Linked DNA regions of Homo sapiens. The protein of the gene in region 1 interacts with the protein of each later gene in a pairwise test. Each region holds a gene or a part of one and is shown on either strand. Other genes may lie near its edges. The genes, in order: GLP1R, ARFRP1, CAND2, P4HTM, ZNF99, PIGG and SAA1.

What was found.
Region 2: the proteins of GLP1R (region 1) and ARFRP1 interact in a protein complementation assay, tested with the Homo sapiens proteins (one study listed by BioGRID).
Region 3: the proteins of GLP1R (region 1) and CAND2 interact in a protein complementation assay, tested with the Homo sapiens proteins (one study listed by BioGRID).
Region 4: the proteins of GLP1R (region 1) and P4HTM interact in a protein complementation assay, tested with the Homo sapiens proteins (one study listed by BioGRID).
Region 5: the proteins of GLP1R (region 1) and ZNF99 interact in a protein complementation assay, tested with the Homo sapiens proteins (one large-scale study listed by BioGRID).
Region 6: the proteins of GLP1R (region 1) and PIGG interact in a protein complementation assay, tested with the Homo sapiens proteins (one study listed by BioGRID).
Region 7: the proteins of GLP1R (region 1) and SAA1 interact in a protein complementation assay, tested with the Homo sapiens proteins (one large-scale study listed by BioGRID).

What each region holds. Positions count from the first base shown.
Region 1 is NC_000006.12:39,083,128-39,087,101, forward strand, and holds part of GLP1R (glucagon-like peptide 1 receptor precursor), read left to right. Parts: intron 1-2,778; coding exon 2,779-2,946; 3' UTR 2,947-3,974.
Region 2 is NC_000020.11:63,701,509-63,705,397, forward strand, and holds part of ARFRP1 (ADP-ribosylation factor-related protein 1), read right to left. Parts: intron 710-3,889; coding exon 628-709; intron 393-627; coding exon 322-392; intron 1-321. UniProt on the Homo sapiens protein: Trans-Golgi-associated GTPase that regulates protein sorting. Controls the targeting of ARL1 and its effector to the trans-Golgi. Required for the lipidation of chylomicrons in the intestine and required for VLDL lipidation in the liver.
Region 3 is NC_000003.12:12,799,476-12,803,449, reverse strand, and holds part of CAND2 (cullin-associated NEDD8-dissociated protein 2), read right to left. Parts: intron 1-3,974.
Region 4 is NC_000003.12:48,993,041-48,997,014, reverse strand, and holds part of P4HTM (transmembrane prolyl 4-hydroxylase), read right to left. Parts: intron 431-3,974; exon of another isoform or gene 1-430. UniProt on the Homo sapiens protein: Catalyzes the post-translational formation of 4-hydroxyproline in hypoxia-inducible factor (HIF) alpha proteins. Hydroxylates HIF1A at 'Pro-402' and 'Pro-564'.
Region 5 is NC_000019.10:22,781,128-22,785,844, forward strand, and holds the start of ZNF99 (zinc finger protein 99), read right to left. Parts: upstream 3,025-4,717; 5' UTR 2,890-3,024; coding exon 2,887-2,889; intron 1-2,886. UniProt on the Homo sapiens protein: May be involved in transcriptional regulation.
Region 6 is NC_000004.12:505,395-509,368, reverse strand, and holds part of PIGG (GPI ethanolamine phosphate transferase 2, catalytic subunit), read right to left. Parts: intron 3,652-3,974; coding exon 3,442-3,651; intron 1,965-3,441; coding exon 1,776-1,964; intron 541-1,775; coding exon 399-540; intron 1-398.
Region 7 is NC_000011.10:18,264,793-18,269,482, forward strand, and holds the start of SAA1 (serum amyloid A-1 protein preproprotein), read left to right. Parts: upstream 1-1,471; 5' UTR 1,472-1,504; exon of another isoform or gene 1,505-1,651; intron 1,652-2,091; 5' UTR 2,092-2,095; coding exon 2,096-2,186; intron 2,187-4,402; coding exon 4,403-4,541; intron 4,542-4,690. UniProt on the Homo sapiens protein: Major acute phase protein.

The DNA.
Region 1 (3,974 bases):
CCAGGCCTGGCTACAGACCCCAGCTAGCATCTCCCCGTGGATCTTCCAGGCTAGTGCCACGGGGTCCAGGAGACCCTGCTCAGAGAACGGGAGAACCTGTCTCCCTTCAGAGCACCAGCCAGTTCCTTTAAACCCACCCTGAGACTCCTCATGCCCTGGCTGCTCCAGGCACAAGGACAGATACATCATTGTCACTGGGCCACAAAAGACACATGTGGCTCTGGGGCTAAGGCCTCTGTCCACAAGAGCTGTTCTGCAGACCCAGGGTTGCCATGGCAATGCCAGGTACTTGTGACCTGAGGAGAAAAGATGGCTTGAATATTGGTTCTGTGTGGCTGCCAAGGCCTGCACCAGCTGCTGGTGGGCGTGAGTGGGGACAGGGAGGGGGAGGCCTGAAGGTGGTTTTGCTGTAGCTTGTGCCTGAGAGCCACAGTGAGGTGACTCAGAGCCCTGAGTGCTTGTCCCAGCCCTGCCACTGCCGAGCTGTGTGACCTGGGGCAAGTCATTTTGCCTCCCTTGCCTCTGTCTCCCCAGCCGTAAATGAAGGTGAATGAGCTTCCCAATTCACCCCGAATCCTGAGGCTGGCATGGTGCCTGCTGGAGAGGGAGGTCAGGAGGGGTGTGCTGCACTGCAGAGGTCGAGGGCAGGGATGAGGATAAAAATCCGATGGTGGAGGAGGAAGTGTGGTGGCCTAAGTCCCAGCCCAGGTGCTCAGAATCTGTGGTGTTGTCTTTGTGGGTTCATTTTCATAGCTGAGGAACAGAAGGAACCTGATGTGAGATGCTCATGCATTTATGTGTTCATTCATTTGGTTCATTTAAAACACATGTACTGAGCACCTGCTGTATGCTGGGCACTGTGCTAGGTTCAGGGATGCTGAGATGAAGAAGATGTGGTCCCAGCCCTCGAGGTGCTCCCAGGTGAGAGGTAGGAGATGGACCAGGGACAAGCAGGACTGCAAGAGCCACGCAGGCAGGAGGCCAGGGGTTAGGAGCCGGGCATTGGAATCAGGCCAGATCTAGGTTCAAATCCTGGCTGAGCGACCTGAGGAAATAAACACTCTGCACCTCAGTTTCCTCATCTTTAAATGTGGAGCTACTTTGCAGGGTTGATGTGAAAGTCAGCTAAGATAATTAATGGAAAATTCTGTGCATACAGTAAGTGCCCAATAAATATGGTGATTTTCAAGGACAATCGTGATTACAGGGGTCACAGCAGAGGTTCAGGAAAAGTGCTGAAGGAGATGGGGGCAGAAGGAGACACTGTGTGTCAGCACCCTGAGAAGTCCCATAGGTGTCCCTGAAACCTCTCTTTGGTCTCTGGTTTCCCGGAGGTGTGCCTCAGTTTACCATCTTTCCCCCCCTCTCCAGCGGAAGGGCTATGAAACAAGCCTGGCCTCCTGGCAGCTGCACAAGTGGGGGCCACCACTGGACTCAGGGCCCCCATCCCAGCTGTCAGCATGCGCTCCCTTCACAAAGACTCAGCCGGGCAGGGAGCTGGCATACAACAGGGTGGCTGTAGGTGGTGTCTGCTCAGCCTCCTTCCCTCCCCCACTCAAGCTTGGGTTCATGACGCTGCATGGGACACTGGCGTCATCCTGGCAGGCAGCCTCTGGGCCATCTCAACTCTACTCAGTGCAGAAAATGTTCTTTTAAGGGATGGCATGCAGCCATACCAGGCGTCTTGCTGGGCATAGCTGGATGGACGACAAAGGAGGAGAGGAGGGTTGTTTGCACAGGGGCTGGTGGGGAGATTGGCCCCTTATCCACAGCCGCTGGCATCTGGCTGTCTTGGTGACTTGGCCTAAAGGGAAGGGCCCAGACCCCAGACACTCTGGTGTGGGAAGGGTGGGGACTTCAAAGAAGCTCTGGAAAGCAAATGTATGGGAACATCACCCAGAAGAGCAGTCCAGACCCCCCAGGACTAGCTTGGCAGGTTCCAGCTAGGCCTCTCCAGGGACCAGAATCACTGGCCACCACCGGGAGCCACAGCATTGCCACAAACCCTCAAGGGATGGGGGCTCCACAGTGTTACTTGGATTTGTCTCTTTCTGCCCCAACAATCTGGCCCCCAAGCATCAGCCCTCCTGAGAGGCTTTTCCTGATGGGGAGGCCAGAGCCCAGCACAACAGGGATCCTGGCTGACTGAGCTCCCCTGGGCTGCACCCCCATGGTCACTGCAGTGTCTCTCTAGATGGCATCAGTTGAGAAGCCCTCACTGGCTGCCCCTTCCTCCCTGCTGTTTCCCGTCTCAGCCACATTCCTTCCTTCCCTCCCTCCTCCCCTGTGAGGTGCTGGGGCCTGGAGAGAAGCCCTCAGGGAGTTTAGAAGGGTCTGCTGTAGACACCAGGAAGGCTGGGGGTTGCCGTCCCCCTTCTCAAGCATCCAAGCTGAAACTGGACTGTGCGCTGTAAAGACAGAGTCTCTCTTCTCTCTCCCATCTCCTGTCTCCCTGTGTTTCACCCTCCCTCTCATTCTCTTCCGTTAAATAATACTGTGATGGATTGTAAAAGGTACTTAGCTGAATCACAGAGTTTAGAGATGGAAAAGACCAATTAGGTCATCAAGCTGATCTCTCTCCTGAGGAGCTGCAGAAAATAGGAGACAACAATAAACAATTTTATTGGGATATTAATTTAGGAGCCCGAAGGCCTTGACTTGTGTCTCTTAATATAATGCAGTGGATTTCTTCCCTTCCCCACTAATGTAATAGTGGGGCCATTTTGTTAGCCATTGGTTTGCATGATGGCTTTCGTTTCCCTCCTTTTCCCATGGAAGGTCCAGCTGGAATTTCGGAAGAGCTGGGAGCGCTGGCGGCTTGAGCACTTGCACATCCAGAGGGACAGCAGCATGAAGCCCCTCAAGTGTCCCACCAGCAGCCTGAGCAGTGGAGCCACGGCGGGCAGCAGCATGTACACAGCCACTTGCCAGGCCTCCTGCAGCTGAGACTCCAGCGCCTGCCCTCCCTGGGGTCCTTGCTGCAGGCCGGGTGGCCAATCCAGGTGGGAGAGACACTCCCAGGGACAAGGGAAGGAAGGGACACACACACACACACACACACACACACACACACACACATACATCCTGCTTTCCCTCCCCAAACCCATCAGACAGGTAAATGGGCAGTGCCTCCTGGGACCATGGACACATTTTCTCCTAGGAGAAGCAGCCTCCTAATTTGATCACAGTGGCGAGAGGAGAGGAAAAACGATCGCTGTGAAAATGAGGAGGATTGCTTCTTGTGAAACCACAGGCCCTTGGGGTTCCCCCAGACAGAGCCGCAAATCAACCCCAGACTCAAACTCAAGGTCAACGGCTTATTAGTGAAACTGGGGCTTGCAAGAGGAGGTGGTTCTGAAAGTGGCTCTTCTAACCTCAGCCAAACACAGAGCGGGAGTGACGGGAGCCTCCTCTGCTTGCATCACTTGGGGTCACCACCCTCCCCTGTCTTCTCTCAAAGGGAAGCTGTTTGTGTGTCTGGGTTGCTTATTTCCCTCATCTTGCCCCCTCATCTCACTGCCCAGTTTCTTTTTGAGGGGCTTTGTTTGGGCCACTGCCAGCAGCTGTTTCTGGAAATGGCTGTAGGTGGTGTTGAGAAAGAATGAGCATTGAGACGGTGCTCGCTTCTCCTCCAGGTATTTGAGTTGTTTTGGTGCCTGCCTCTGCCATGCCCAGAGAATCAGGGCAGGCTTGCCACCGGGGAACCCAGCCCTGGGGTATGAGCTGCCAAGTCTATTTTAAAGACGCTCAAGAATCCTCTGGGGTTCATCTAGGGACACGTTAGGAATGTCCAGACTGTGGGTGTAGATTACCTGCCACTTCCAGGAGCCCAGAGGGCCAAGAGAGACATTGCCTCCACCTCTCCTTGGAAATACTTTATCTGTGACCACACGCTGTCTCTTGAGAATTTGGATACACTCTCTAGCTTTAGGGGACCATGAAGAGACTCTCTTAGGGAAACCAATAGTCCCCAT
Region 2 (3,889 bases), on another chromosome or scaffold:
TGAGTTTCACCTGGGTGTCCCCACAGCTTGGCCACACACTCCTGAGACACGGCCGCCCTCCTGGGGAGAGGTGCCCTGCATAGCAGGAAGAGGCCTCTGGGCGCCTGCCCTGAGGTGGGAGAACCTCCAGGGCTGGCAGCAGCAGGTCTGGAGAGGAACCAGGCTTGGGAAGCTGCTGGGGGCAGGGCAGGCCTTGAGAATGGCTCTGTACCCCCTGGGCAGTCACTGGGCCTGGGGTGTCTGGGTGCACACCTGCTCCCCTTGCTGTGGGGGAGGCTGGGGACTCGGGAAGCTGCTGCGGGAGGCAGGGGTGGGGCTCACCTCCACATCCTGCTTGTTGGCCAGCACCAAGACGGGGACACCGCACAGCGCCTCGCTGGTCACCACCTTCTCTGGGGAGGGCAGGAGAGGCAGCGCCTCACACCCAGCATCCTGCCTCTGACTGCCCAGGGGCCCACAGGCGTGGACACTGTGACAGCCACTCCCTCTGCCCCCCCCCCCCCCGTCACCCACTAGGCAGGAGCACTTCTGACCAGACACTGAGCCTGCCCCAGGCACAGAGCTGCCCAAGCTGGACCTGCCCCCACTCACCATCCATCCCTCCCAGAGCAGCCAGGCCGCACTCACCAAACGCCTGCTTGGACTCAGCCAGCCTCTCCTCGTCGGTGGAGTCAATGACGTAGATGACGCCGTGACACTCCGCATAATACTGGGAGGAAGCACCAGGAGTTGGGGCTCAGTCCCCACCCTGCCAAGGGCCAGCAGAGCCAGGCCTGTGTCATGGCCACAGTGAGGGGCTCACATGAGGAAGGGGCAAGAGGGCAGCCCCCAACTGCAAGACCCTTCTGGGATGCATTCTGGGGTTGCGGGGAGATCTGGTGGAGGTGTCCCCAGACGCTGCTCCTGAGAACCTGCCGGCAACCTTTGGCCTGATGGTGGCCAAAGGTGAAAGACAGGGATTGGGCCAGGCGTGGTGGCTCACACTTATTATCCCAACACTTTGGGAGGCAGAAGCAGGAGGATCACCTGAGCCCACTTCACGGCCAACCTGGGCAACACAGTGAGACTCCGTCTGTACAAAAGCTTATGGTAATGTGCGCCTGCAGTCCTAGCTACTCGGGAGGCTGAGGTGGGAGGATGGCTTGAGCCTGGGAGGTTGAGGCTGTAGTGAGCTCTGATCACACCACTGCACTCCAGCCTGGGTGAGAATGAGAGACCCTGTCTCAAAAAAAAGATAGGGTTTGGGGGCTGGAGGAACCTAGACCACAGCCTGGCCCGTTGAGGGAGTGCACCTGTGGGGCTCTGTGCCAGCACCTCGCACAGGGAGGGAGTGTGGCCATGCGGATAAGACTGACCAGCGCCATCTACGAAGCGAGCCTTCCCTGCCAGGACAGGGCCAGAGTCACTGAGCTCAGACCTCTGCAGCCTGGGCTGGTCAGTCCTGGGCTCGCTGGCAACACTCCTGGGCAAGACAGGGCACAGCCCCTGCAGCCTCAGGTACAAGTGCTGAGCCCTGGACCAGATGAGTGCACCTCTATCTCAATCAGAAAAAAACACAGCAAACTCCGCGTCCACGTGGAGCAGACAACAGCTCACATTTGCCACTTTGCCTCCAGGCTGTGCCAGCTCTCCTGTCCAGGCATGAGTGCCCAGAGACCTAGAACTGGATGCTGACCAGGTAGGACAAGCTGGTGGTCAGTGTGTTAAGACACACACACCCGAGAGCATGAGAAGCCAGGAGGCACAGCCCAACTCTCCGAAATCCTTAGGGTGTCTGAGCAGGGAGTACCAGACAACCCCATCCCAGTGCCAGACAAGCTTGTGCACCTGCACTTCCCACAGAGGAGAGAAGCCTGTGCACCTGCACTTCCCACAGTGGAAAGGAGGAGGCCCAAGGCCAGGCCCCCCCACCCCCAGGAACTTCCCACAGTGGAGAGGAGGCCCAAGGCCAGGCGCCCTCCAGGGTTCTGCAGGTAGCGAGGCCCCCCCACCCCCAGGAACTTCTCTGGCCTACAGACAGGTCCCACACAGAGGCCGCCAACCCCTCAAGGGACCCTGCAGTGTGCCGGCTGTCTGCTGCTGACACAAGGGAGCAGGCGGACCCTAAGGTGGAGACCTCTGTGGCAGGAGGGGCGGCTCTGTGGAGGCTGCAGCAAGCCCAGTGAGAGAATCTCCACGTGGCTCCTGGGGCTTCTGAGCAGGGTGGCAGAAGGTTCATGTGCAACCGGGTCCTGGACCATGGGACCACGTGGCCAGAGCCACCCATCACACCTACCAGGCACAAGGTGCACAGCCCAGCAGGGCCGCAGTGGACGGGAGCGACACCTCAGGGCTGAGTGCGGGCAGGACCCAGAGCCCCACGCCCCAGTGGAGGCGTCACAGCAGTGGTCATTGTGGGGTGCCCCACAAGGAGGGGGAAGAGGGAGGTGTCCAAGCGTGGCTCCTGGCTGGCCAGCTGACCCCAGTGGAGCAGTCAGAGGGACTGTGGGTCTGAGTTTTTCTCCCCAGCAGCAATGGGAGCTCCCCAACTGCAAAGTGCCAGCCAGCCTGAGAGACTAGTGTTACAGCAAAGAACCCAGGAGCTGAGGTCCTGGCACATGCCACACATGTGGACACCAACCCAGGGTCCAGCCCCAGGACGAGGCCAATTCGCAATGACGCCCCTTTCTGTGGTGCTGGCTCTGCACAAGGATGCAGGATACAGGAAACCAGGGTGGGAGCAGGGGCCTCCCTTCCGGTCCCTCCCAGTGACCTAGGGGGGTCCCTGCAGCTGATCCTCCCAGCTCTGAGCTCAGCAGGGTCAGGGGTCCCGGCCACTAGAGCAGCACATACTCAGCAGACACGCTGAATGACGAGCCACAGCTGCCTCATGGGCATGACTTGCACCTCATGTCTAGGAGACCCTGGTGGGCAGGAGATGGGGCTGCCATCCCACAGCTGTCCCACAGCTGGGGACCCAGGGAGCCACTGGCCCCACCACGGTGGTGTCTGGAGAAGGGCTCAGACTGCCAGGAAGTCGCACCCCAGCAGAAGTGGTAGTGAATTGGGAGGGCACTCAAGGAAGGGCTGTGCAGCCCCAAGACCAGCAGCAAGGATGGGCTACAGTGGCCCCCTTAAGTCTCCCTCTTCCAGTTTCGCCTTAAGAGAGGCCCTCAGGACCTTGGAGGAACCCCTCTCCAACGTGGAAGTGTGGGTCCACATAGGGCTGCAGCTGTGGCCAGTGCAGGCATCTCTGGCCCCACTGTATTCTTGCTTCATGTTGGAGAACACTGCACCAGCAGATGGTCTCATTTTGGTTTCTGTGGGACCCACTTTGGCTGCAAAGAGCCACACTGCCAGGTCACACCTGCCCAGGGCAGCCCACACTGGGGACCCACCAGGCCATGGTGTGAAGTCCCGGCCAGCCTGGCCCCACATGGCACAGCATAGCCAGTTCTCCTCCAGGGCTCCCTGCTGGGCCAACCACAGCTCTGTGGATCCTGCTGCCTGAGTCGACCTCTCCTCTCCCGTCCTCCCTGCCTTCCTGGTGCCGACCCCCAGTGTGCATCCTGTACCTCGACCTGTCTCAGCATCTGTGCCTGAGACACCGGCCTGTGACAAGATCATCATCATCTGTGTCACTCCCCAAGCATGCTGCGCACTGGACACACAGGCCCTGACTCAACTTGTCCTGTCTGACTTCAGTGGTCCTACAGGATCTATCAGAGATCACTTGGCCATGGGAGAAATGTCTTCTTGGCTAGAAGTCACAGCAGGAGGGGACACTTTGGGGGCGCCTAGGAAAGGGGAACTAGGATCAAAAAAGAGATCAGGACCTGGGCACTCAGCTCTAGAGATGGCATCAGGGCAGCCAAGGCACTGGGGACACCCCACACCCACTGTGCCAGCC
Region 3 (3,974 bases), on another chromosome or scaffold:
TGGGCCCTGGTGGATTTGGGCAGTACCTCAGGGTTCCCCTAGAAGTAGACCTTAATACAAAGATTCGAGGTCAAATGCAGTCCTGTGTCACATAATGATGTTTTGGTAAGTGACAGGCAACATATACAATGGTTGTCCCATAAGATTATAATGGAGCTGGCCGGGCGCAATGGCTCACGCCTGTAATCCCAGCACTTTGGGAGGCCGAGGTGGGCAGATCACGAGGTCAGGAGATCAAGACCATCCTGGCTAACATGGTGAAACCCAGTCTCTACTAAACAAAATACAAAAAATTAGCCAGGTGTGGTGGCGGGCGCCTGTAGTCCCAGCTACTTGGGAGGCTGAAGCAGGAGAATGGCGTGAACCCGGGAGGCGGAGCTTGCAGTGAGCCAAGATCATGCCACTGTACTCCAGCCTGGGCGACAGAGAGAGACTCCGTCTCCAAAAAAAAAAAAAAAAAAGATTTTAATGGAGCTGCCCTATACAGGCATGCCATTTTAATCTTTTCTACCTTATTTTTACTGTACCTTTTCTATGTTTAGACACACAAATACCACTCTGTTACAACTGCCTACAGTACTCAATACAGGTTTGTAGCCTAGGAGCAACAGGCCACACCATATAGCCTGGGAGTGTAGTAGGCTCTACCATCTAGGTTGTGTAGGCACACTCTATGAGGTTCACACAAGGACAAAATCGCCTAAGGATGCACTTCTCAGAATGTTTCCCCGTCGTTAAGTGCCACATGATGGTGGATTATTTGGGCAGTGGGCATGGTTGGGCTACAAGGAGACCCACATATGTGTGACACCAACTGCCACATAGTGGCAGACTAGCAACGGCTCAGCATGCTGGCTAAATGCATAATGTTTCAGGATCGGTGGCCCCCGCCTCAGCCATTTATGAGTGTGAACTTGGGCAAGTCATTTCACCTCTCCAAGCCTTAGTTTACCTGTCTGAAAACAGGGATGAGACTAGTACCTGCCTCATGGTGTTTTAAGTGCACATGGTGTGTGCTCAGTAAATGGCACTGCCATTATTATAATGGCACAGGACATCATCCACATCTCACAACAGCTGAGAAAGTGATGCCAGAAGGTTGTTTTGTTTTGTTTTGTTTTTTGAGATGGAGTCTTGCTCTGTTGCCCAGGCTGGAGTGCAGTGGCACGATCTCAGCTCACTGCAAGCTCCATCTCCTGGGTTCACACCATTCTCCTGCCTCAGCCTCCCGAGTAGCTGGGACTACAGGTGCCGGCCACCACGCCCGGCTAATTTTTTGTATTTTTAGTAGAGGTGGGGTTTCACTGTGTTAGCCAGGATGGTCTTGATCTCCTGACCTCGTGATCCGCCCACCTCGGCCTCCCAAAATGCTAGGATTACAGGCGTGAGCCACCGCGCCCAGCCAAGGGATACCAGAAGGTTGAACAGACACCTTGTGTCCAAGTCAGAGCTAGAGGCCTGTCTGCCAAACAGATGGAGGAGGGCGAGCCCTGTCCACTCCCATCTCAGAGAACCGGCTCAGTCCCTGCCCTTAGAGCAGTGGATCTCCAGCTATAGCCAGCATCAGAATCACCAGCAGCGCTTGTTAAATAATACTAGTCCCCATTCCCAGAGTTTCTGAATCAGCAGGTCTGAGTTGGGGCCCAGGAATCCACATTTCTAACAAATTCCTGGAGGACACTGAGGGTCAGGGACCACACTTTGAAAACCACTGCCCCACGCCATGCTGATGGGCATGGGCATATTTTGGAGACCAGCGCCAATAGCTGACTGGCTCACTGACCTAGGGTGGGCACCAGAGGCAAGGGCTACCCACCCGGAGGTGAGGGATTCATGGGGCCTGACACCAAAAGCCTGATGCTGTCCCAGGCATTTGAAACTGCAGTGGGAGTCTAAGCTGGAAGCCACGGAAAGTTGAGGCTGGGGCCAACTTTCCAAGTCGAGGAATGGTGCGGGAATTGGGCACCATTCCCGCCAAAATTAAGAGGGTAGGAGCAGAGGTCTGAAACTAGTAGCCCTCAGCTGTGTCCAGCTTGCAAACATGTTTTCAAAAATTTAAATTACTTGTCAACATTTGAACATTGGGAAAGTTGACACAAAAATACTGACTTTGGCCTGGCATGGCGGCTCACGCCTGTAATCCCAGCACTTTAGGAGGCTGAGGCGGGTGGATCACCTGAGGTCAAAAGTTCTAGATCAGCCTGGCCAATATGGTGAAACCCTGTCTCTATTAAAAATACAAAAATTAGCCGAGCGCGGTGGCAGACACCTGTAATCCTAGCTACTGGGAAGGCTGAGGCAGGTGAATCACTTGAACCCGGGAGGCAAAGGTTGCAGTGAGCTGAGATCGTGCCACTGCACTCCAGCCTGGGTAACAGTGCGAGTATCCATCTCAAAAAAAAAAAAAAAAAAAAATACTGATTTCCAGGCTGGGCGCAGCAGCTCACGCCTGCAATCCCAGCACTTTGGGAGGCCAAGGTCGCCAGATCACTTAAGGTCAGAAATTAGAGACCAGCCTGGCCAACAGGGGGAAACCCCATCTCTACTAAAAATACGAAAATTAGCCAGGTATGGTGGTGCACACCTGTAGTCCCAGCTACTTGGGAGGCTGAGGCAGGAGAATCACTTGAACCCAGGAGGCAGAGGTTGCAGTGAGCCAAGATCGTGCCACAGCACTCCAGCCTGGGTGACAGAGTGAGACTCAAAAAAAAACAAAAACAAAAACAAAAACAAAACACTGACTTCCAGATTATCTTGAAAACAGAATATTTGAGTACAACGGGGCCTACAATCCCTGGTGACAATACCTGATTAGAATCAGGTTGTGGCTGCCCTCTCCCCAGTTCACCTGGTCCCCACTAGGCCCACTTCACCCACTGACTGGCTCCTGCAGGCATGTGAGAGCGGAGTCTCAGGAGAAAACAGGACAGAGCAGCGAGGAGATACTGTAAGGCTGCCTCGGAGAAAGCCTCCAGCTTTTACTGACCCTGCTGGGCCACTCTACCACCCCACGCTGGCCCTGCTTTCCAGCATGGTTGAGCAAATCAACCAAGAGCCCTGACCCCCGCCTCCTGTGGCAAAATCTATCACAGTTGGGATTCTGGCTCTCATCTGTGCAGACTCAGACCTGCTCCTAGATGTCACTGCAGCCCACAGTGCCCTGTTACCAGGGGTGGACTGGTCGATGACCTATTTATTTTTAACAGGTAGATTAGCCACAAGTTGCTAGGAGAGAGAAGGAGGCTGGGCTGGCAGCATGGGCAGGATGGCAGGACTGACTGTGCCCACCTCTGGGCAAAGGTAAAGTGAAGGAGGAGGTTTGGATTTGAGCCAGGCCAAGGCCTGAGGTGAGCACATGCACCCCTACGTCTGCTCAGCTGAGGGGACATTCTGAGATGGCACCCAGGGTCTCCAAGTTGTGTTTCTGCTGCAGTCCATGGGGGCCCAGCTCAGCCTGGCAACCCAGGCGATGTGCCTCTTTGCCCAAGATAGGCCTTCTATCCCCGCTCTTCTTCTTCATCTGTTGAGCTCCTCCTATTCACCCATCAAGAGCCCAGCTCAAATGTCCCAGCTCAAGGATGACTGACCTCCCTGCCCTACCCCTGCATCCACAGCCCCTAAGCACAATGGTTCCCTGGACAAGATCCTTTCAGAGCACTCTGCACCCCTCCTTTATAGCACTTCTCACACTGCAATACAAGTCTGGCCACCAGAGCATCTTCTCCATTGGACTGTACACTCACTGAGGGCAGAGGCTCATCAGGTTTATCTCTGGGACTCCAGGCTCAACAAAGAACAGGTCTGCAGAGGGCTTTGTCAGGGAGGGTGAGAGCAGGAGGAGAGGTAGTGAGAGAGCTAGCCCTTAACAGAACTTACAGCCAAATAGTCCGAATTCAGAAACCAACTCTTCTGAAGTATGCCTCAGCATTTCAGACACCCCTGGTTCCTGCAGACACTAGCTCTCGGAGAAAGCA
Region 4 (3,974 bases), on another chromosome or scaffold:
TTGAGCAGGTAGTCCTCTGTCTGGCCAAGAGGACAGACAGGCTCCCAGGCAGCTGTCTATGCTGGGTAGGGAAAACCACCTTCTGTCCTTCCCAGGCCTAGGATGACAGCCTGGCTAGTGGCCTGCTACTACTGCCCACATGCCTCGGAACCCCAAGCTGAGTCTCCGGGCAGGCACATAGCCTTGGGCTATGCTCACCTTGGACAAGATGCTGTTTGTCGAACCCCGGACAGACTTAATTATACCTGATTAACCTTTACCGGTCCGTAGCTTTGCCAAGCAGCAGGCCTATGAAAGAGCAGGGGTGTGTGTGGCAATGCAGCAGCCTGAGCTAAATTCCTTAAAAACTCGAACTAGCCAGGCGCAGTGGCTCACACCTGTAATCCCAGCACTTCGGGAGGCTGAGGCAGGCGGATCACGAGGTCAAGAGATTGAGACCATCCTAGCCAACATGGTGAAACCCCATCTCTACTAAAAATACAAAAATTAGCTGGGCGTGGTGGCGGGTGCCTGTATTTCCAGCTATTCGGAACGCTAAGGCAGGAGAATCACTTGAACCCAGGAAGCGGAGGTTGCAGTGAGTCGAGATGGTACGCACCTGTAGTCCCAGCTACATGGGAGGCTGAGGCAGGAGAATTGCTTGAACCCGGGAGGCGGAGGTTGCAGTGGGCCAAGATCGCACCACACTGCACTCCAGCCTGGCCATAGAGCGAGATTCCGTCTCAAAAAACAAAACAAAACAAAACAACAACCTTGAACTGATACGCACACTAAAATTGTTTCTCTACTTTTGGGCCTCCAGTGTTTGTCATGAGGAGGACTATGGTCTGATGTAGCTGCCTAATTGTTTTCTTAAGCTGAAAAAGAATACATTTAGAAATCCTAAGATAAAGCAGTCATGATTTTAAAATAAATTGTTTTGTATACTGGTGGCAATTACTCATTTACCTCAAATTGTTAAGAAAAATGGATTAAAACTCTTGCTGGCCACTGGTAGTACCCCCTGCTGCCTTTGAAGAGGGTGCCAAGTCAGAAGGATACGTGGAGGATGCTCTAAGCCAGCAGGCAGATGCTGGACTGGGCTGAGAGCACCCAGTGAACTCCTCCAGCCAGCCAAGAATTAGCGGGAGGCTGGGCACGGAGGCTTATGCCTGTAATCCCAGCACTTTGGGAGGCTGAGGCAGGCGGATTACTTGAGGTCAGGAGTTCGAGACCAGCCTGGCCAACATGGTGAAACGCTGCCTCTGGTAAAAATACAAAAATTAGCTGGGCATGGTGGCAGGCGCCTGTAATTTCAGCTACTCAGGAGGCTCAGGCAGGAGGAGAATGGCTTGAGCCCAGGAGGCGGAGGTTGCAGTGAGCCGAGATCACACCACTGCACTCCAGCCTGGGCAACAGAGCGAGACTCCATCTCAAAAGAAAAAAAAAAATCAGCAGGAGATACAACTCTGGCCATTGGACACACAGCTGAGACAAATCAGTCCTCTTACATATGCAGCTCACCTTTGTGGGCAGAGGTACAAATGACACAAATAAATACGGAAAATAGTTTCCAGCAGTCCTAAGCATTTGAGAACAAAACCCAGCAGGCTGATGCAACAGGGTGCCTGGGAACCTTTTAAGATGGGTTTGAGGACAAGAGGTCTCTGAGGATGGGATGTGTGAGCAGAGGCCTGCTGGAGCTGAAGGCACGCTCTGTGGGAAGAGCCAGGTCTAAGCCTTTTAGTGAGGGAATAGTACATACAAAGGCCCTGAGGCAGTAGTGAGCTTGTGGTGTCTGAGGATCAGCAGGGAGTAAATGGAGTCGGGGGTGGGGGCAGGAGATGAGTCTAAGAGGCGAGAGGGCTTTTAGGCATCAAATGAGACTTAGAAGTGAAATGGAAAATGTTGGAGACATTTAAGAGAGTGATGAGCGGCTGGGCACGGTGGCTCATGTCTGTAATCCCAGCACTTTGGGAGGCCAAGGTGGGTGGGTCACCTGAGGTCAGGAGTTTGAGACCAGCCTGGCCAACATGGTGAAACCCCATCTCTACTAAAAATACAAAAAATTAGCCAGGTGTGGTGGCGGGTGCCTGTAGTTCCGGCTGTTTGGAAGGTTGAGGCAGGAGAATCACTTGAACCCGGGAGGCGGAGGTTGCAGTGAGCCGAGATGGTACCATTGCACTCCAGCCGGGGCAACAAAAGTGAAACTCCATCTCAAAACAAAAACAAAACAAAACAAAACAAAACAAAAAGAGAGAGCCATGAGATCTGATCTGCTATGACAGAATCAGTGTGGGGTGGGGTAGGACAGCGGGAGAAGTGGGCCACATGTAAGAAAGCAATGTCCCCAGAGAGGTGGCAATGGTTCAGAAATGGAGCACTTCTGTTCTGAACAGGATGGTGCCCTCAGCTGACACCCAATATTCCAAATCCTTTATTTCCCTACCAAGGGAAAATGACCTACCAGTCATGGAAGTATTTGCCAGGAGCTCAAGCGTGGGCCTTTTGTGGCCCAGGTCCCAGTTGCCAAGTGTCTTTAGAAACAAGGGTGGGAAACAGGAAATATTTCTCAAGGAGAGACTGGGGGCTGCACGGGGTCTTCCTTGAGAAGTGCTAGGGTTCCCTTCTACAGAGATGGAGGCACCTTGGGGTGGACCCCAGTTCCCTTGCCCCAGCTCACATCTTTAGCATCCACTCTTCGATCCCAGGTATCTTGGGTCCCTGAAGCTGGCAGGTCACAGGTTTAGATCCAAGAACAGCATGGCAGAGGGGGCAGAATCTATAGCAGGTCCACTCTTCTTGGGCCCTGCTTGCCCATTTAGAATAACTGGGTAGCAGACCAATGGACAGAGGGACAGGCAGGCCCAGAAGACAGACACTGCTCCTGCTGGGGATGAGGCATCCTTCTTTGTAGTCATCCAATACCACAGTATTCAGGAACTGCCCCACCATGACCACCCTCTTCCCTCTCACACATCTGGACTTCCTGTAATCATTGATTGCAATCTCTTGGTTATGCCTTTTGAAGTTCATCTGCAGAAACAGAGATCCATCTGATGGCTTAACCAGAACCAGTTTACCTTTTGTCAAATCTCTTCTGCTTTTCATAATTTGCCCTTGGTGACTTTAGATCTGGGTTTCTCATTCTATGCTTTTTTTTTTTTTTTTTTTTTGTGATGGAGTCTCACTGTCACCCAGGCTGGAGTACAGTGGCACGATCTTGGCTCACTGCAACCTCTGCCTCCCGGGTTCAAGCAATTCTCCTGCCTCAGCCTCCCGAATAGCTGGGATTACAGGCATCCACCACCATGCCCAGCTAATTTTTGTATTTTTAGTAGAGACGGGGTTTCACCATGTTGGTCAGGCTGGTTTCGAACTCCTGACCTCAAGTGATCCACCCGCCTCAGCCTCCCAAAGTGCTGGGATTAGAAGCATGAACCACCAAGCCCGGCTCATTCTCTGCTTTATAGGACAAGCTGTTTATTAGGGAGACTTTGGCTTCATGGCTTACTTAACCTAACATCAATATGAATTAGATATATACAGATCCCAGGAAGGCTGCTGAGAGAAAACAGTGCCTCCTCAGATGTGTCTGTTCATAGTAGTCGTTAGTAGTGTAGTAGTAATGGGGTGAGTATTAGTTCCTTCCTGGACCCCTCTTTCCTGACAGTCATCTGGCTTTATCCCATACTTCCCACAAGTCGTTGCTCAGATTTTTTTTTTTTTTTTTTGAGATGGAGTTTCATTCTTGTTACCCAGGCTGGATGCAATGGCACAATCTTGGCTCACCACAACCCCTGCCTCCTGGGTTCAAGCGATTCTCCTGCCTCAGCCTCCCAAGTAGCTGGGATTACAGGCATGTGCCACAACGCCCTGCTAATGTTGTATTTTTAGTAGACGGGGTTCCCCCATGTTGGTCAGGCTGGTCCCGAACAACCTGACCTCAGGTGATCCACCCGCCTCGACCTCCCAAAGTTCTGGGATTACAGGCG
Region 5 (4,717 bases), on another chromosome or scaffold:
CTTGGTTAAGTATTTTCTTACCTTTCAATCCCTACTAACAAAATGCAATTTACAGTTAAAAAACTGAGGTCAAAATAAGTGAACAAATCTTTTCAAGGTACAGATGTGTCTGATTCATGTGTCAAGTCAGGCCATCCAATCACTTAAGAGATTCTCCCACCCCATTCTCCTCACTTAAGTGCCCAATAACTCCTTCTCAGGAGACTCTGAACTATGCCCCAGTGAGTGCCCCAGGTAAGAACTTTTCAAGTTCTTACACCATCTCATTGGGGTCACTTTTTTTTTTTTTTTTTTTTTTTGTCGTTTGGGACACTATTTTTGATTTCACAGATTCTCACTATTTTTCTTTCACTATTTTTTCATTATATTTCACTATTGTTCTGCTCCCTTAAAGAATGCAGGGGGCAGAAATTATTTCTGTGTTTTCCCCGCAATACCAGCATCTGATTGGCTGACCAGCAATGTGTCTTCAAAAAATGGAAGCTGGGTTGGGTGAAGACAATCTTAATGTCTCAAGGGTTAGCTTTTCAAAGGAAGAGTATACCAGGAGAGACCTCTCAACCCCAGGGCATCTGCCTTCTTCGTTGAAAGGCTACACTCCACACCTCAGGTTGTCCTACTGGAGAAAATGACCAGGAGCTGATATTCACTAGACACTCTAGCAGACATAGCCATGGGGAATATTTTAGCTAATTCCCAGACAGTACTGAAACCCAGGACCAGGGAAAAAACTGAAGAATGGCTGAAAACACATCATAAAGTTTCCAAAGGAAAACCTTTACCTTTACCCCAAAACATTCTGCTAAAATCTGTGGAGCAAGGAGGAAAAAAAAAAAGCGGCACAAAGATTTTTTACAACACAGTGTCAGGGGATTATTTTTTGCTTTCTTCTCTTAGGAAATATTCACAAACAGAAAACAAATATTATGAAAAGTACCATCCAATGCTTTGTTAAAAAATAAAATACAGTATCAAAATGTACACTAAGGACAAATAGTAATGTGAATCAGAGAGGGAAAATTGACATTATGAACTGGAAGTTTAGTATTTTATTGCAAGCCAGAGTTAGGCTGCAGGAATTGGGGTTTGGGAGTAGACATAATACTCTGCTTGAGATACCTGTAAAAAATGGAGGGGAAAATCAGTCATCTGAGGAGTGTGAAAATAATTAAAAATAATTAAGTGGCAGGCAAATAGACTGAGGTGGCTCTAGTGCCTGATATCTACTTTTTTTTTTCTTTTTTTTTAAGACAGTTTCGGTCTTGTTGCCCAGAATGGACTGCAATGGCGCGATCTCGGCTCACCGCAACCTCTATCTCCCGGGTTCAAGCAATTCTCCTGCCTCAGCCCCACGAGTAGCTAGGATTACAGGTACAGGCATGTGCCACCACACCTGGCTAATTTTTGTATTTTTAGTAGAGATGGGGTTTCTCCATGTTGGTCAGGCTGGTCTTGAACTCCCGACCTCAGGTGATCCGCCTGCCTCGGCTTCCCAAAGTGCTGGGATTACAGGCATGAACCACCGCACCTGGCCTTTTTTTTTTTTTTTTTTTTTTTAATATGAGAGGGAGTCTCCCTCTCTTGCCCAGGCTGGTGTGCAGTGGCGCAATCTCAGCTCACAGCAACCTCTGCCTCCCGGGTTCAAGCGATTATCTGCCTCAGCCTCCCGAGAAACTGGGATTACAGGCATCTGCCACACTCCCGGCTAATTTTTGTATTTTTATTAGAGACGGAGTTTTACCATGTTAGCCAGGCTGGTCTAGAACTCCTGACTTCGTGATTCACCCGCCTCGGCCTCCCAAAGTGCTGGGATTACAGGTGTAAGCCACCGAGCCAGGCCTGATAATCTACTTTTTAAAAAATCTAATTCGGCCGGACGCGGTGGCTCATGTCTGTGATCCCAGCACTCTGGGAGGCGGAGGAGGGCAGATCACCTGACGTCGGGAGTTCGAGACCAGCCTGACCAAAACGGAGAAACCTCGTCTCTACTAAAAACACAAAAATTAGCCGGGTGTGGTGGCGGATGCCTGTAATCCCAGCTACTCGGGAGGCTGAGGCAGGAGAATCGCTTGAACCTGGGAGGCGGAAGTTGCGTTGAGCCGAGATCGCGCCACTGCACTCCAGCCTGGGCAACAAGAACAAAACTCCGTTTCAAAAAAAGAAAGAAAAAAATATTAATAATTCAAGTGCTTTTTTTTTTGTAAATTACTACATTGGGGGAAACAAAATTCAGGCTTAACCAACTATAAACTACAATTAACCTCTGATTATATAAACGGGAAATTTCCATCTTGATTGTACAAATTAAGAATCTACGTAACTGTACATAACCCATTACTGAATTTGGTTTTCTTCATTATGCACCTTATAAAACTCTTTCCGTCAAATCCCTTCCATAGACCATAAACTACAAACCACAGCTGGGTGCTCTGCCATTTTTGAATCACTCTTTGATTAAATCCTTTATTACTTTAGTGATGACTGCCATCAATTTTTAATAGGAGAAAAGAGGGACTGGAAACCTCACTGGACCAAAGCTCTTCCCATTCATGAACCCGCACCCGGAGTCAGGATTCTCCCCTGACGCCCCTCCCGTGGTCCCTGCACAATCTGTGAGAGAGGAGGCGCTGCGGGTGAAGAGCGGCCCAGAGAGGGCTCCAGGCCAGGGCATAGTCACAGTGCAGGAAGGAGGCAGGTCGCCCGGGGTCCCGCAGTCAGCGCAGCCGCCATCTTATGGCTGAAGGAGACTGAGGCCGAGCTGGGCAAGAGCTCGGGGCGCAGACTGTGGAGCTCACTGAGGGGAGGCCTGAGTCCCGCCACAGCCACTTTCCACCGGTTCCAGTCAGCCCCTTCCCCTTCTCAGGATATCGGACCCGGCACTCTCACCATTTCTAAGCTTCCAGGGGGTCCTGGCGTCCTAGCTGTGGATCTCCAAATACCTACAGGTCACAGGGCCACAGAGGCTAAGGACACAGAGCAGTAAAAACGAGATCCGGAGCTCCAGCTGGAACCAGAAACAACGGCCCCGCCACATCCCACAAGCCGCCCTTTCCGCTCCAGCTGAGTGCCTGATTGGACGGTTCCCAGCCCAGAGTCCCTGATTGGATAATGTTTAAATCCCCGCCTCCTCAGGCCCTGAGTGACAGAAGATGTGATCTGATGCTGAGCTGAATGAAGAGTGACGGGCCGGGCGCGGTGGCTCACGCGTGTAATCCCAGCACTTTGGGTGGCCGAGGCGGGTGAATCACCAGAGGTCAGGAGTTGGAGACCAGCCTGGCCAACATGGCAAAACCCGGTCTCTACTAAAAATAAAAATTAGGCTGGTGTGGTGGCGGGCGCCTGTAATCCCAGCTACTCCGGAGGCTGAGGCACGAGAATTGCTTAAACTCAGGAGGCGGAGGTTGCAGTGAGCCGAGATCGCGCCAGTGCACTCCAGCCTGGATGACAGAGCGAGATTCTGTCACGAAAAAAAGAAAAGAAAAGAAAAAGAAAGGAAAGGATGACAGTCTAGGCTGCAGCCTTTTCAGGCAGGGCTTCCTTCCTGAACTGAGCCAGGCCAACCCCAGAGGGTATTTGCATTTAACCTTTTGTATAAGGTCACATTCTTTTATAAATAATATATTATATGGTTATTCACAAATGAAAAGAATATAACAATTATCTAAAATTTTCAGAGTTTATGACCTTCCTGGCTTCTGGTTTTTTCATCAGATTGCCTGAGGTTTTAAAAAGAAGGCAATCCTCTGAAATAAAATTGTATTTTAAATTTTCTAGTAGCCAAACTTTAAAAATTAAAAAAAAAAAAAACAGGTGGAATTTATTGTAGCAATTTAATTAACCCAATATATCCAAAATATCATCTTAATACGTAAGCAAAATGTAAATTATAAATGAAGTGTAGATATTTTTTGGAACTTCATCTTTGAAACTAACTCTGTATTTTACCTTTCCAGCACATCACAGTTCAGACCAGCCACATTCCAGGCACTCAGTCGCCACACATGGCCAGTAGCTGCCACATTGAAGTGCAGCTCTGACCTTAGGAGAGGGAAGGGCCTGAACAAACCTTTTCTGCCAAAGATGGAAAAAGAGCCTTTCCCTACCAACATCTCTCTTCAGCTCTGAGGGAGGAACAGATAGTAGCCATAAATAAAGCACAGGACAGCAGGAAAAAACAACCACAGGTAGACCACTGCTGGCCACCTGTTGCCTACCTTTATTCCAGAGATCAGAAGGTGAACTAAGGATGGTAAGGCCACAGGAGAAGAAATCTCTGTGTCTTCAAATCTGTGCACAGTCTTGACCTCCAATGTTTAGATATGAAGAAAATAGATTAAAGGAAAACTTACTTTTCTATTTGTCCTTGGCCCTAATGGTCAGGCTGTGGTTATCTGTTTTCTCCTGTGGTATGGGGGACTGTGTGAGTATAGGCACCAATTACATGCATACATGTCCACATATATTTCTGCATTACTCAGCATTCTCTTACGAGGCCTCCAACTTTATATCAGGGGAAAAATCAGTACCTATAGGGTACCCACTGTTAGAAGAGAACTAGTAATCAACTTGTCAATGAATCCTGGCATCCTATCTGCACTGGGTGCATGTATTAATTAGCTATTGCAGCACAACAAATCATTCAAAACTTATTTGCTCATAATTGAGATGGTCAGCTATTTAGGGTGGGCTCAGTGAGGCTGTTCTTTTTGTCTCAGCT
Region 6 (3,974 bases), on another chromosome or scaffold:
CTGGCCGGGTCCCATGACTCTTGTTGACACTGCTATTCAATAGATGGTTTACAATAATGCAAACTTTTAAAAAAGCCGAGGTATTCACGTTTCCTTCAGTTCACACATGCTGTCCAGATGTCTCTGAGCTACTGGCAATTTTTCTCAACAGTTCCAGATATCCAGGCAGCAACATTCATACAACAAAATTCTGACAAAGAATAACTGTATTTTAAGGATTCGGGAAGGAACGTAACTTCAGATCCCAAAAGCCTTTTGCCCAATTACTTTTCATGCTCACATTGCTTGGGGACTTCAACCTTATGGAGCTTCTAAAAAATAGGTTTTCAAAATTAAAACCAGACTATAGAAAACAAATGTAATACAATTTCCAACTGTTAACATTCCTAAATTCTCACCGGGTTTCCTTTCAAACGCAGAACTGATTAAAATCAGAGGTGTATTCACCTCCTCGGTGGAGGAGGCCCCGTGACTTCCTGTTTCAGACATGCCATGGTCACCACAAAGAACCAGCAAATTGGGTAAAGGCGTCTCTCTCTCCTTTAAGGCAAAGGAAAAACATTTCAACTGCGTTCAGACTGAAGAGAGCACATCATCTTAAGAAGACAATTTTCGGTTTTAGCTTTACTTTATAGAGTTGTAGCTCTTTCTCAATGAATTAGATTTTTTTTTCCTATGAGCTCATAGCCAGATCACAGGGTCACAGTCAAATAATGCCATAAATGAAGTTCACAGAATTGTACACAGCTCATGGAGCACAGCAGGCTGCATTTCTGCCCTCTGATGGCAGACGGTTTGTATCTGGTTTCTGTCTTTGCCACTGCCAAGCTGTGAGACTCTGGACGCATTCTACTCTGTGCCTTGGTCGCCTCATCTGTCAAATGGAATCTTTCACAGGACTCTGGTGAGAACACAACACACAGCAAAAGGCAAGAGCTCTGAGCCATGTGGGGGCACCCACCAGGCTTCTCTGCCCCTGGGGTTGCAGCCACACATCCTTTGCTGCTCCGGGACAAGCCAGGCAGGCTGTGCCTGACCCTCGCTGCTGGTCCTCCTGGAACACTCGTGCACAGACCACATGGTCTGCCCCTCCCTCCCTTCAAGTCTCTGCTCACCCTGCACACGTCTTCAGGGAAGGCTTCTCTCAACACGCTGTTGAAAGCCCCTCCTCCTGCCCTCTGAGTTTCTGCAGCACCCATCACCTCCTCACATACTTATTTACTCATCTTTCTCATCTCTCCTGGCTAGAGCGTGAGCTTCACGAGGGATTATCGACTGTTTCACTGATGCACCCAAATGCATGGACAAAAAGTGACATAGAACAGAAACAGAGACACAGAACAGACAGAGTGACACAGAACAGAGACAGTGGCACAGAGCAGAGAGAGTGACACAGAACAGAGAGTGACACAGAAGAGAGAGTGACACAGAACAGAGAGTGACACAGAACAGAAAGTGACACAGAACAGAGTGGCACAGAACAGAGAGAGTGATACAGAACAGAGAGAGTGGCACAAAAGGTCTTCAGGAGGTATTAGTTGAATGAATGCATACACGGGTAGGAGTGAGAGCTGCTGTTCTGCAGGGCTGCTGGAAGACGGAGTCAGTGCAGTGGACACTGAGACAGTGCTGCCCGTGTGGCATGCGGCCCCTGGCTAGCAGACTGATGGTGGACATTCACACAGGCACCCTGAATAACTCAGGCGGTTGCATTTATTCTAGGGAACATCCACGTGAAACCACATCAGCAGACAGTGAGCGACGGCGAGCCTCACCTTCGACTGCAGTGAGGTGTGGATCTTCATCAGCACGCTGTCCATCTCGCTCAGCTTCTGCCCAATCAGGGGGCTGTTGGGCCCTGAAATGTGGCCAATGTGGTCCAGCCCCAGGTAGTGGAGGATTAATATGTCCCAATCTCCTCTTTTTAATACTTTATCCAAATGCCTCGTGACATTATTATCCACCTTTGAAGGGGAAACACACGTATAAACAACTCACCTAATTTCCCTGGATCTTCACTCCCCGGGGAAAACGCAACAGTCATCTTAAAATCTAGGGGTTTATTCAGGTTACAGGATTTGGGGGAGTTGAAACACAACAAAATCTATGTCATTAAAAATAAATAAATAGGCTGGACACAGCAGCTCATGCCTTTCATCTCAACACTTGAGGAGGCTGAAGCGGGAAGACTGCTTGAGGCCAAGAGTTCAGGACCCACCTGGGCAACATAGCAAGACCCCACGTCTATAATAAATAAATGAACATTAGCATTGGATTAAACTTTTGCTAATATTGTTTTTATGTTTCTGGGCTATGGATCGAATATATTCTACAGATAATTTAAATGAGCAAGGGTTCTTCTGACAAAAATATTTTTCTGTGGGATCACTGCTGGGCTTAATGGGCATAACTGAAGGTGAGCAAATGGGCAAGTTAAATAGATCCCAAGTTGTCATGAGGTAACTAAGGGCAAAGGGCAGTTAATTAAAGACAGGACAGTACCCAGCGTTAAAGTAACCAGCAGGATGATGAAGCTGAGGGCATCTACATGTGTCCTACAAGAAGGCTGTTCTGAAAAAGACACAGCACTCAATGATCACATTGATTTCTGAAATAAACACATCACGGAGGAGAGATGAGCAGTTGATCAGCCCCCAATAGAGCTGTCAGCCTGGTGAGCCCTGACCCCTCAGCTAGCTCATCTCCCTCCCACTAAAAAAATCTCCTATGAAGAGAAGTGTTTCTCAGTGATGCCATATATAGTCAGGAAAACTCAGTCATTACTGAAAAGTAACTGTTGAAAAGCGCCCCACTTTGGAACAGGATAGGACTACAGATGCTCCATAAGGCCCAGCCATCTAGGAGGTGAAGCTGGCTAAACCCCAGGCCAGGCAGGTGTGCTGGTGTGCTCCTACCTCAGCCCCAGGTCTGCTTTCTAACATGCAGGTCTAATTTTTGTTGGAAAAGCTCCAGGAAAACCCCCTCAGGACCAGGCCCCACCCAGTCGGCCACCTGCCCTCAGGGCACGATGAGGCTCCGCTTGCAGCAGAACCAACAGGCTGTGGAGTCCTACAGCTCTGCCATGTGCAGAAGCTACCAGCCTGTTCTGCCCACCTGGGGAGTCCCCACTCACCCATCATATCTCGGCTCAGACAGTCCCTTGGCTGTGTCACCCTTCCTGATCCTCTCTGCCCCTCAATGGCACTCAGCTGTTCTAAGCTTTGGGTTCCATAAAACTCTGCTCACACCTGCTTCAGGTTTGTATTTCTGGGTTGTTAACTGATTATGTGAGTGAATAATTTTTACACCTGTCCATAGTACTCCCTATAAATTAATAAAACCAAATATAAAATGGTATCATCTCTCACTAAGTAATGGGATGCCAGGCTCTATCTAGTATGATATTCTAGTATGATATATTTTCTTATTTTAAAAACTGACCTCTGTGTAATCTGACACGAAAAATGAGGTTGTTCCATCATATTCCACAAAATGCTTTGGGAATAATTTAACCCAGGTTTCATCTCCATAAAAGACTATTCTTTTTCCAGCTGCTTTTGCTTGTCTTATCACACTGTCTTCCAGCAGTGCAGGAGAATTGAGGTTCCTGATGACGTCGACAAAGCCAGGAAGGCTCCCCGTCATCAATGCCTGCAGTCAGAAAATGCAAGAATTAGGCCACTGAATCCAAAACCGGAGCATGAAAAGGGCACTGAAGATTTTTTTTTTTTTTTTTGAGACAGGGTCCCTCTCTGTTGCTCAGGATGGAGTGCAGTCATGCAATCAGGGATCACTGCAGCTTTGAACTCCTGGGCCCAAGCGATCCTCCCACCTTGGCCTCCCAAGTAGCTGGAACTACAGGTGTGTGGCACCACACCCAGCTTTTTTTTTTTTTTTTTTTTTTTTTTTGGTAGATACAGGGTCCCGCTATGTTGCCCAGGCTGGTCTGAAGATTTTTTATGGATAAAATAGGT
Region 7 (4,690 bases), on another chromosome or scaffold:
GGAGGGGAGGGGAGGAGAGGAGGATCAGGTGAGGAGTATGCCAAGGAGTGTTTTTAAGACTTACTGTTTTCTCTTTCCCAACAAGATTGTCATTTCCTTTAAAAAGTAGTTATCCTGAGGCCTATATTCATAGCATTCTGAAAGAAAGAAAAGAAAAGAGGAAAGAAAGAGAGAGGAAGGAAGGAAGGAGAAAGAGAGAGGAAGGAAGGAGAAAGAGAGAGGAAGGAAGGGAGGAAGAGAAGAAGGGAGGAAGAAAAGAAGGAAGGAAGGAGGGAGGGAGGGAAGGGAGGGAGGGAAAGAGGAAGAAAGGAGGGAAAGAAGGAAGGAAGAGAGAGAGGAAGGAAGGAGGAAGAGAGAAGAAGGAAGGAGGAAGACAGAGAGGGAGTAAGGAAGGAAGGAAGGAGAAAGAGAGAGGAAGGAAGAAATGAAGGAAGGAAGGAAAGAAAGAAAAAATAAAAGAGTGAAAACGGACTGGAGAAGAAGAAACCACAGTTGCTGCTATATCCACCAGCCTCTCTGCATGTCCTGGCCTCAGCCCTGCTGGGCTCTGGTACTGACCACTTCCTTCCTTCCTAATTTCCTAATTGACTAGGCCAGCTGAGCAGGGCTTTTCTGTGCTGAGGAGGTAAATCTCTGGATATCTAGACTGAGGGGTGGAAGGAGCCTTCCAGGGCACACATGAGACATGGCAGGGGTAGGCTGCTAGTTTTATTTTGTTTTCTTTTAGACACAGGGTCTTGCTCTGTTAACCAGGCTGGAGTGCAGTGGCGTGATTATAGCTCACTGCAGCCTTGACCTCCTGGGTCTCCCACAATCCTTCCGCTTCAGCCTCTTGAGTAGCTGGGACTGCAGGTGCACACTACCACACCCGGTCCATTTATTTTTATATTTCGTAGAGACAAGATCTTACAGTTTTGCACAGAGTGATCTTAAACTCTTGACCCCAAGTGATCCTCCTGCCTTGGCCTCCAAAAGCATTGGGATTATAGGAGTGAGCCACTGTGCTGGACCTAGTCTGTCAGCTTTGAAGCTTTAGATATGAACTCAGAGGGACTTCATTTCAGAGGCATCTGCCATGTGGCCCAGCAGAGCCCATCCTGAGGAAATGACTGGTAGAGTCAGGAGCTGGCTTCAAAGCTGCCCTCACTTCACACCTTCCAGCAGCCCAGGTGCCGCCATCACGGGGCTCCCACTCTCAACTCCGCAGCCTCAGCCCCCTCAATGCTGAGGAGCAGAGCTGGTCTCCTGCCCTGACAGCTGCCAGGCACATCTTGTTCCCTCAGGTTGCACAACTGGGATAAATGACCCGGGATGAAGAAACCACTGGCATCCAGGAACTTGTCTTAGACCGTTTTGTAGGGGAAATGACCTGCAGGGACTTTCCCCAGGGACCACATCCAGCTTTTCTTCGCTCCCAAGAAACCAGCAGGGAAGGCTCAGTATAAATAGCAGCCACCGCTCCCTGGCAGGCAGGGACCCGCAGCTCAGCTACAGCACAGATCAGGTGAGGAGCACACCAAGGAGTGATTTTTAAAACTTACTCTGTTTTCTCTTTCCCAACAAGATTATCATTTCCTTTAAAAAAAATAGTTATCCTGGGGCATACAGCCATACCATTCTGAAGGTGTCTTATCTCCTCTGATCTAGAGAGGTAAGCAGGGTCGGGCCTGGTAGTACTTGGATGGGAGAACACCTGGGAATACCAGGTGCTAAAGGCTTTAAGAATAAAAAATAATGATCCTGCTTTGTGTTTATCCCATGTTGAGTTCTGTGCGGGGCAGAGGGAACACACGGTAAATGCGTTATGGGGAATTATAGGCTACTTGAGGGAGTGACAGTCTGGTGGTAACTCCTGCCTTCCTCCATCAGTGCCACGTTGGCATCCTCTTATGCAGTCAGGCTTCAGGGCTGATGGGTTCAGAACCGAGGGCTTCTGGCTCTGAGTGAGGTCCTGCTGCAAGGTTTCCTAGATGAGCCACTGAGACTCTAATAAGATCCAGTGGAAATAACCAGGCTCTCGTCGGAATATAAGTCCCAAGGGAAGCTGTGCCAGTCTTGTGGGCGACTGCCTGACTTCTCCTTTCATTTCAGCACCATGAAGCTTCTCACGGGCCTGGTTTTCTGCTCCTTGGTCCTGGGTGTCAGCAGCCGAAGCTTCTTTTCGTTCCTTGGCGAGGCTTTTGATGGTAAGGCTTCAGAAGGTTTGCAGGATTTCTGAAGAGAAACATCACCCTGGACCTGATAAACTGGGGAAAATGATGCTTTCGGAAGGCTGCTTTTGAACCACAGAGTTGCTAGTGTCTGCGTTGCTGAGGCCTGCCAGGAACTAGGGTTTGCTGGGTTGCCTGTCTCGAGTCTTTCAGAGCTGCTGGGAATATCCCCTTTCCCCGTAGTGCAGCTTCTCAGGATGTGTTAAGTGGATGGATCACATTTCAGAAGCCGCTGCAAGGTGTATCAAAAACACATCTCCTGAGCCGTAAGGGACGGGGCATCCAGTAACAACGCACACGGGGTATTTTTGGGCTTCCTTAAGATTTGAGCCGCTGCCTTAGGTTGTGCTGCCCAATGTGCCTGGGGAGCTGCTAAACAGATTAGAGAGTCGAGGATTGTTGTCAGTTACTCAGAGAAAGAACAATCATCCTTTCCAGGAGCACCTGAGCTGTTTGTTTTGCGTAGAAGATGCAAAATAAGGCCTGCAATGGGTATAAAATGTCCCTCAGCATAAATCGCATAGGAGTATGACTAAGGCTGTTGACTCTTCTGTCTTCTTTCTCCTTCCTCCTTCGATTTCCTAGTTGGATAATGTACAGGGCTCTTTAGCCTCGCTCTGTCAGGGGCTCCCTTCCTGGTTTGTTCTGTTTCCATTCTTCCTTCTCCAGCCTTCTTGACAAGAGCTGGGAACTAACGTGCCTCAAGCCCCCACAAGGACCACAGCATTTTCTCATTTAGTTTCAGAATGACTCTGTGACGCAATCTTCCTCTCTTGGAAGGTGAGAAAGCTGATCTTGGAAGGTGAGAAAGCTGAGACTTAGAGCAGCTGAAGCCAATGCCCAGGGACTTACTGCCAGTCAGCAGGTGGCAGGGCAGAGGTTTGAGCCCGGCTGTGCTTGAGGTCAGGGCTCTTGCCAGGTAGACGCATCACTGACCACCTCCTAGAGGTTGATGGTTATGAATCTCAGGCACACCTTGGCATCACCTGAAATACCCATGCCTTCAACTCCCCAGCAGAGTCTGCAGAAACTGGCCTGGGGTGTGGCCTGGGCACTGGGACTTTCAGTTTCTCTCTGGGTGATTAGAAAGTGCAGCCAAGGCTCACGCCTGTAATTCCAGCACTTTGGGAGGCCAAGGTGGATGAATCACTTGAGGTCATGAGTTCCGGAGCAGCCTGGCCAACATGGTGAAACCCCGTCTCTACTAAAAATACTAAAATGTAGCCAGGCGTGGTGGCAGGCACCTGTAATCCCAGCTACTCAGGAGGCTGAAGCACGAGAATCACTTGAACCCGAGAAGCAGAGGTTGCAGTGACTAGAGATCGCACCAGTGTCCTCCAACCTGGGTGACAGAGCGAGACTCCATCTAAAAAAAATGAAAAAGAAAGTGCAGCCAAGGCAGAGCACCACTGCCCTATTGCTTCCTCAAGCAACCCACAGCATCAGTACAGCCTACTAAGAAAGTATTTAGGGACTTTTATGCTCCTAACAGTCACTGGAACTCACGTCACAATGACGTGTATTCCATTTGCAAGAATATATACTTTAGGTCGGGGTGCGGTGGCTCACGCCTGTAATCCCAGCACTTTGGGAGGCCAAGGCAGGGGGATCACGAGGTCAGGAGTTCGAGACCAGCCTGACCAACATGGTGAAATCCCCGTCTCTACTAAAAATACAAAAATTAGCCAGGCGTGATGGCGCATGCCTGTAATCTCAGCTACTCAGGAGGCTGAGGCAGAAGAATCTCTTGAACCTGGGAGGTGGAGGTTGCGATGAGCTGAGATAGCACCACTGCACTCCAGCCTGGGCGACAGAGCAAGACTCTGTCTAAAAAAAAAAAAAAAAAAAAAAAAAAAAAAAAGAATATAAACTTTAGTAGTCAGGGCAGAAGTACTCTGTGTCTGCCACCTTTCTCAGCATCAGTATTCCATGTCACTACCTCATTCATACACACTCCTGGATCTTATCATAGGCAGCTTCATTCTATAGCAGTGGCTCTTCACCAGGGCACTTGAAGAAGCCAACTAGGATAAAGGAATGTGCTTCTCAACCCATGGTATCCAAGGCTGCTATGATCACAGGCTGAAAGCTTGAAGTCAGTGGAAGATTTGTCCTTCCTCATTCCCCTCTAAGGTGTTGTTGGAGTCTTTATGTTCTCCTGATGTCCCTTCTGCCTTTCCTTTCCTTTCCAGGGGCTCGGGACATGTGGAGAGCCTACTCTGACATGAGAGAAGCCAATTACATCGGCTCAGACAAATACTTCCATGCTCGGGGGAACTATGATGCTGCCAAAAGGGGACCTGGGGGTGCCTGGGCTGCAGAAGTGATCACGTAACTGGAGCTCCTGGGACGTTAGGGCTGGGTGAGCAGAGCTTGCCTGCCTTGGACAGTCAGGAGGGAGACGAGCTCCTTGTGGAGAAGTTAGAGGCTGCGGCCCCTCCTCCTCTTGCCCTCTCTCTGCCTCTGTGCTCAGTGTGAGG